2 linked regions of the Homo sapiens genome follow. The protein of the gene in region 1 interacts with the protein of each later gene in a biochemical or structural test. Each region holds a gene or a part of one and is shown on either strand. Other genes may lie near its edges.

Evidence for each region.
Region 2: the proteins of OFD1 (region 1) and RUVBL1 form a complex in vitro, tested with the Homo sapiens proteins (one study listed by BioGRID).

The regions. Positions count from the first base shown.
Region 1 is NC_000023.11:13,762,166-13,765,982, forward strand, and holds part of OFD1 (centriole and centriolar satellite protein OFD1), read left to right. Parts: intron 1-178; coding exon 179-279; intron 280-1,550; coding exon of another isoform or gene 1,551-1,552; exon of another isoform or gene 1,553-1,579; coding exon 1,580-1,690; exon of another isoform or gene 1,691-1,694; intron 1,695-3,817. UniProt on the Homo sapiens protein: Component of the centrioles controlling mother and daughter centrioles length. Recruits to the centriole IFT88 and centriole distal appendage-specific proteins including CEP164. Involved in the biogenesis of the cilium, a centriole-associated function.
Region 2 is NC_000003.12:128,099,581-128,103,397, reverse strand, and holds part of RUVBL1 (ruvB-like 1), read left to right. Parts: intron 1-1,749; coding exon 1,750-1,839; intron 1,840-2,653; coding exon 2,654-2,803; intron 2,804-3,817. UniProt on the Homo sapiens protein: Possesses single-stranded DNA-stimulated ATPase and ATP-dependent DNA helicase (3' to 5') activity; hexamerization is thought to be critical for ATP hydrolysis and adjacent subunits in the ring-like structure contribute to the ATPase activity.

The sequences.
Region 1 (3,817 bases):
ACAGGTATTAATTGCTGAGAACAATGCCTAGTGGTGGTGGTGAGGTGGAGCTATTTACAAGACAAAGAGAAAGGGAATTTTGTAGAGCCTTTTCTTGAGTCACAAAAGGCTTTTTGTCACCTTGTACTCTTTGGTTTTCCATTATTGAAACTTCACGAGTTTTATCCTTCCAATCTAGTCTTTATCGAAGACAAACTGAACTTCAAGACAAAAGTGAATTTTCAGATGTGGACAAGCTAGCTTTTAAGGATAATGAGGAGTTTGAATCATCTTTTGAATGTAAGTTCAAATATAAATACCAGTTTTTATATGTTGAAAATCTAGAAAGCTTAGTTTTGGTGAAACGTATCCATTGGTTTAAAAAGAAAAGCAGTTACAAATTGGGTCATTATTATTTTGTGATACAACCACAAGTACAGATGTATCACCTCATTTTTCTACCATGATGATTTTCATGTGTGTGTTTACTTTTTAAAAATTTCAGTATGACTAATAATTTCAGAGTTTGAGCTAAGCTTATAAATGAATTATTAACTTATCAGATTTTAAATAAGTGATTTTTATTTATTTTTTCCTTTGATGGAATACAAGAATGTTTATTTTTATTTTTTTGAGATGGAGTCTCTCTCTGTTGCCCAGGCTGGAGTACAGTGGTCCGATCTTGGCTCACTGCAATCTCCCTCCTCCTCCCAGGTCCAAGTGATTCATCTGCCTCAGCCTCCCGAGTAGCTGGGACCAACCACAGGTGCATGCCATCACACCCAGCTAGTTTTTTTGTATTTTTAGTAGAGATGGGGTTTCACCATATTGGCCAGGCTGGTCTTGAGCTCCTGACCTCAAGTGATCCGCCTGCATCGGCCTCCCAAAATGCTGGGATAACAGGCATGAGCCACTGCGCCCGGCCTAAGGATGTTATTTTTTAAATATACTGATTCAGTTGATTGCCTCAGATTTAGAAAACCTCATTTTTAGTAAAAGAATAGAGATAAAAGAATATTAAGAGTCCAGAAACTGGTGTCCTGGCTATGGCCCTGCCTTAGACTGTCTTACTTTGTAGCCACTTTGTAAGTGTAAAATAAGCATGTAGAGCCTATCATCTCTAAGGTTCTTTCCAGCTTGAGAAATCTTTATATTTGCATATAAGCTATTGGTTAGCCTTGTAAACTTCATCTTCAAATCTGAAAGTGTTAATATTTTGAACAGTTAAATGAGAGGGCTTGGTAAATTTTGTAAATATTTGTTAAAGTCTTTGTGTTAAATCATTGATATTTTAATAGAATTCAAATGATGATCAGCAAGCCAATTGAATTCTTCACTGTCACTGGGTTGATTTTCCTGTTGGGTAACGAATCTCATTTTGTAAACAAAGTTAATTCTTTCAACTACGAGAACACTCTGACAAGCAAATACGTTGCCAAGTGGTTATGTTGGGAACTTCATAGAATCCTGTTAGGAAAGGGCGCACCCAGTTACTTTGGCTTCAGTTCCCGTGCTCCAGTCAGTTGCCCCCACACTGCACTGCCCTTCTTTGTCTTGGTGTTATTATTAAGGACTCATGGGACAATTGTGCCTCATGCAGCTGCAGGGAACATGCCAAGGCAGTTGGAAATGGGCGGGCTTTCTCCTGCCGGGGATATGTCTCATGTGGACGCTGCTGCAGCTGCTGTGCCCCTCTCATATCAGCACCCAAGTAAGTTCTTTTTTTGAACTAACAGTCAGCAGGGTCGCATACTAAATACCAGTCCGTGTGCTCTGTGAATTATTTCATGTATCACTGAAGTCATCTTGTAGGTGTAAATTAGTCAAAATCTTGGGTTGGGGGTTATAGGTGTCATTATATTGTTAATGACATTTCTGAAGTAATTCCCATGTGAACATGTAAAGACAGTGCTGAGAAAGGACACGTTGGAAGGAAAGGCTTCTCATTTAGGCTTCCCAGGCCAGTTGCTTAAAAAGTGTTTTCATTTACTCTTCAGTGCCTGGCATAGTAGTTGGACTTTTCCCCAAGACTCTTCTGCAAAAACTGTTCCTTGGGAACCTTAAAGTTTGGGAAATCACAGTGAAAAATTGAAATAATAATTAACTCCCAGCATATATCTTTAATATGATTGTAACATTTAAATATTATTTATTTTTCTATCTACTTGTTTCCTTTGTGTCTTAAGAAATTAGGACAGAAAAACTTCGTATTTCAATCTTTGGAAAAGCTGTGACACCGAGTTAGCGTAGCACTGGAGGAAAACTGGCCATCAGACTTCTCTTCTCTGGCCCACTTCCTCTTTTTCCTCTTCTCCTCCAGATTACCCACTTCCCTCCCTGCGGGTGGAGGGAGACGGGAAGAGAGCCGTGGGAGCTTTGTGCTTTGTTCCAGGGCTCAGCCAACAGCCAGGTCCTTTTCTTCTTGGACCAAGTGTTTAATCCTCAAATCTGAAAGGAATTTTCTCAAGTAAAGCCACCTCTTAGTCCCTCCCAAACGTTGGAAAAACATCATACCCAAAACCCCTGTTAGCAGTTTCTTGGTTTTAGTCATGGTACCCAGGAACATATAAAATAACTGAAAGAGGCAAGAGATTTTGAGAGGGTTGATGTTGCTGATTCCAGAGTAAATCTGCTTTGGAAAGCATTCAGTGAGACATGATCTAGAGCCTTGTCTCTGCTGGGCACTTTGCTCAGCGCTGAGCATATAGCTCAAGCCCTCGCCTTCCTGGATTTCTAGCAGGGGAGGCAGATGGTCAGCAGGCCATCACCCAGGACCGCAGCAGGGAGGGGCTGCAGCAGCTGAGTAGGGGCCGTGGCCACAAGAGGGAGTGTCTACAGGCACTCATTTGGCACAGACCTGAGCGAGGGAATACAAATAATGTGATAGGATAAGGGAAATCAACTGAGTAACTAGGTGTTCTGCTGCTGAGATGGAACATAGATTATAATATTTGCTTTAAAAATTATTAAGCAGCATGGCGAGTGACATTTTAGTTATTGAGAAATTGTTATATTTGTCATTTCATCTCTTCATCTGGGCACAAAGGGAATTCAAAAAGGTTGAAATTTGGTGTCTCGGAGGTGCCCCGTGGACATGCTTCCTTCCTTTCCCCTTGTGTCCAAGAGATTTCTGTATACCACCCTGCAGCTACAAAATATACACCAGAGTAGAGAAGCAGCTCACTCTTCCTCTTTATTTTGTAATTGGTGCTTAAACAACATTCCTATTTTGAGATTACTATTCCATATAAGAAAGCAATCTTGTTTAGGAGTAACTATTTTTTCTTCTCTAGCAAGGAGGAAGTTGCATTTCTGCCTGTGGAAATGATCAGCTGTCTCCTCTGGTATTTTAATTTCATGAGAAGGATTCAGAAGAGATGGGGGAGAGAGAGAAGAAACTGTGTTGCTTCTCTCCTATTAGTAAAACTCAGTTCCTGCTGATCACTTTAGAACAAGGCACAGCAAAAAGGTTCAAAGTCCTCTGCTGAACCTATGAATTTTTCTACTTATTAGCATTGCTTGGGTTGAAAAAAAAAATGTAGGTTATGGGTCAGAGCCAGAAGAGAAAGGTCAGCATAATTGTCTCTGGGATTGGGGTCTAATTAAAACTTTTGAGATATAGGGACCTGTGCCAAGATGCAGAGGGAACAGACAAGTAATTAAAGTATGGACCTTGCCTGGAAGGAATAGAAGTGGAAGAAACAAGTACATGTAGTTTTTGACAGATCAGGTACAAGATATCCTGCAAGTGAGATGCTGGAGTGGTTAGTTGTCACTTCAGGAATAAGGAGGAGGTGGCATTTCAGTTGGGTCTTGAATAGCATTTCAGACTTTGTGA
Region 2 (3,817 bases), on another chromosome or scaffold:
TCTCTTTTATACCTACCCCTCGTCACTTCCATTCTGAATTAATTAGATTTCTCAGTAGCATCTGCCACCTTTCCAGTAATTACATCTTCAGTCAATTCATTTGGGAAATTAACCGATATAAAAATGCTTGAGGCAAAAAAGAAGTATATTCTCCAATGTAGGACAGATAAAATAAGGCGTACAGTTTAAATTTCAGCTATTTGTAACACTGCTTTGTACAGTTTCTTTACAAAAATAATGTAGAGGAGAAGATGAAATTTTTCTTCCAAAATGAATACTTTTAGGTATTTTTAGAATATGTACAAGATATTTGGATAGAAGGTGCTCAAATACTTGGTGGATATTCAAGTCTGAAGGAGTCTTCTGAGTTCTAGCAACGAGAATGCCATTAGTACTCATGACCCCTTCCTGCCAGGCCTTACCTGGGGGCCTCACCCACTTTTGTCCTTAGGCGCACAGACTCACAGCAGTTCTGCCAGGGTCTGCCGTCCCCACCCAGCTAAGGAGAGGCAGAACCCTGGGTTTGCTGCTGTGGTGGTAGTTTTTTAAAAGCTTTATTCAGATAGCATTTTAAATAAAACTCACCCATTTTAAGTATACAATTCCAGGAATTTTAATTTATTTTCACAGTTGTACAATCACCACAATCTTAATTTCAGAACATTTTCATCGCCCCAAAAAGAATCCTCCTACTCATTTACAGTCATTCCCCATTCCAACTATAGCCCTCGGCAACTACTAATCTACTTTCGGTTGCCTTCTTTTGGACATTTCATATAAATGGAACATACAGTGTATGTCTTTTTTTGTATCTGGCTTCTTTCACCAAGTCCTGGGTTTTCACTTTTTAATTTTGTTTGGGCAAAGCCCAAGTTTTTTTTCCACCATAGCTACATTGTATAACATAGATCTCCATGAAGACCTCGAGAAACTTGTGTTTAACTATAGAATCCTTACAAAGGCAGCTGTCCTAGAATATTAATCACTGAGGGTCACCAGAATCTGGAGAAAAGCAACAGTTCCGCAAATCTGCTTATTTCCTTTCCTGGAGATATAAGCAGGCAGACCCAAGGGCACAAACACTGGGATGTGAGTCAAAAGGCTTGGGAAAGATTCTCATTTATGTTTTTCTTTGAATTACTGTATACATCTGTGATTGCACCTGGGTGCTGTTGTATAGATGAGGAAACTTAGAACTGAGAACCTTATCCAAAATCAAAGGCCCTGCAAGATGCCAGCTTTGAGATTGGTAAGCAGGTGCTGGCAGGTACTTCAGTTGTGGAAAGTTCCACCCCACCTGAGGTGAGGCAAATGAAGGAGTGAAGTAGGGATGATGATTTCAAGAGGGGTGATAGGGCCTGTGGTCCTGTGGACAGTGGGGGCTGGGCCCACCCGTCTCACGGCAGCCAGGACCATCCTTATAAAAGCGCTGCTGCCAGTTTACAGCCTTTGGAATCAAGGGAAAGAGGAGAGTACGTGTCCCCTGTGTCCCTCTCATGCTCGTTACATAGGGATGCAGGTATGCTGGCCCCCCTATTTTCTCCCTGGTGTGCTTAGTCCCCCAGCCAGTCTGTTGTGTGGTACTTATGCATTCACACTCCTGCAGGTCCCAGTATTCATGCAAACGCAAAACAGGCTTTCTCCATGCACCTGCTAGCTACCTCAGATCCCTTACGGAAAGGTACCTTACATGGTGTCAGAAGGAAATGGAATATGTATTACACTTCTGATTTACATTTTTTTTTTTAGCTGGACCCCAGCATTTTTGAAAGTTTGCAGAAAGAGCGAGTAGAAGCTGGAGATGTGATTTACATTGAAGCCAACAGTGGGGCCGTGAAGGTAATGCCTTCCTTGGGACACAGCATTGTCCCTGATTTGTTTGCCATGAGAAGACCTAAGTGACAAGGGAGTTGCTTTCTTCAGAGGGTGTGGGGTGTGTGGGGAGGGGCTGGTGTCTGTTATGAGGCTGATGGAAGGTCAACTAGTGGCCCTTTATGTATAATAAAGTTTGCCTTCCCTTTATCTTCATTCTTTAACCTTCTCGCGATTAAAACAGATAGTCTGTTAGAAAAAATACTAAAACCTGTTCAGAGGGGGAGGACAGGGTGAGAAACCAAAACAACTTTAGTCACTTTCAAATTGAAATGTGCAGTGTATTTAATCTTCCTTTTATCTCTTTGGTATTTTCTTCCCAAGATATATGCATGTGGGAAGGAACGCTGCATTCGTTGGCATTCTTTTCTATCTGATTTTCAGGGTCCTGTACAGTGTTCCTCACTGTTTAATGGATGGGCATAATACTTCATATCATACAATAAATCATCCACCTACAAAAGAGTCTGAGCAGCTCCTCTGCCTCCAGTTAATCTACTGGATTTGGCCTTTATCAGGAATTGCATACAGTTAAAAGAAAGAAGGGAAAAAGGATTTTGGGAGAAAGTATCAGGTGTTTTTCAACCCAGTTTTTGGAGCCCAGCGATGAGCAGATAGCTCCCTTCTCTTGGCAGCAGGGGAGTGGGGCATATTTGGAGTTTGTCAAGTAGGCTGTCAGGCCTGCAGTGGGAACTGAGACCTTTATCTCACTTAGCCCTGTGCCATTTGGGGACTTGGCAGTGAAAACTTACCAGGCACTCATGTTTCTCTCTTTTTGCAGAGGCAGGGCAGGTGTGATACCTATGCCACAGAATTCGACCTTGAAGCTGAAGAGTATGTCCCCTTGCCAAAAGGGGATGTGCACAAAAAGAAAGAAATCATCCAAGATGTGACCTTGCATGACTTGGATGTGGCTAATGCGCGGCCCCAGGTACTGCCTCGATGCCTGGGTGATCTGGCACATTAGCCCTTTTGTATGTGTGTGGAGATCTGGGAATGAATTGTCAGAGTCTTGCTGCCTTTCTTGAGGTAGACGGTCCTTTTCTATCTGTAATGTTCAGCAATTAACATCGACATGAGCTACGAGGGACTCCTTTGTTCCCATTCAAATGCTCTAGTCACAGATGATTTCATGTGTATTGTTTCTTATCCCAGCCAAGCCTCTGGCCCTGAGCTAGCCAGCTTCCTCCATGGCTTCACTCCAGCAGTGGGCTCACACCTGGGATTTTCTGGGTGTTAATGGCAGGAGGGCAGGAGTGTTCTATGAGCCCTTTACAGGATTTCAGAAAGCCTAACAAAGCTCTTTCTTTCCCCCTGCTTAGCAAAAGCCACAGTGTTTTAGCTTTGAGCTGGTACTGTTGTCTGCTTCTCATACAGATGGATACTTATGCCTTGGCTAGTAAAGTGCAGGAAAGGATGTTATCACTATATGACATTTCTAGGAAATAGTGAATAGTCACTATTAGGGAATAGTTTGTTTTCTGACTTGAAATTTGATCCGTGGGTGTTTTGTTCCTTGGAGCTTTGGTCAAGAGATTACTGAAGACTCATCTTGGACCAACAGGTCCCCTTGGTTGGTGAAATGGCCATCCCCAAACTGACCTCCTGGGAGCCCTTGACCTGAGAAGAGTGCTGGGCTGGGAGTCAGAAGTCAGGAACTGTGTTGCTCCATCACTGACCAGCTTGGTTAATTTGTCACTTTGGGTCTCTGGGTTTTCTGTGGTTTGGGGTTCGGTTTTGAGTTCCCTCCTACTTGGCAAGGCAGTTTTGAGGACCAGACAGGAAACATTTGCTGCCTTTAGCTATTCAGCATTTAGTGAGCCCTTCTGTGTCTCAGGGCCTGGTAACCAACAGGTGATCACTAAATGCTGAATAAATGACCAAACACCAGCCTCTTCCTCTTGCTGACTGCACTGTTAGGAGCCCGCAGGAGGATGCAGGTGAG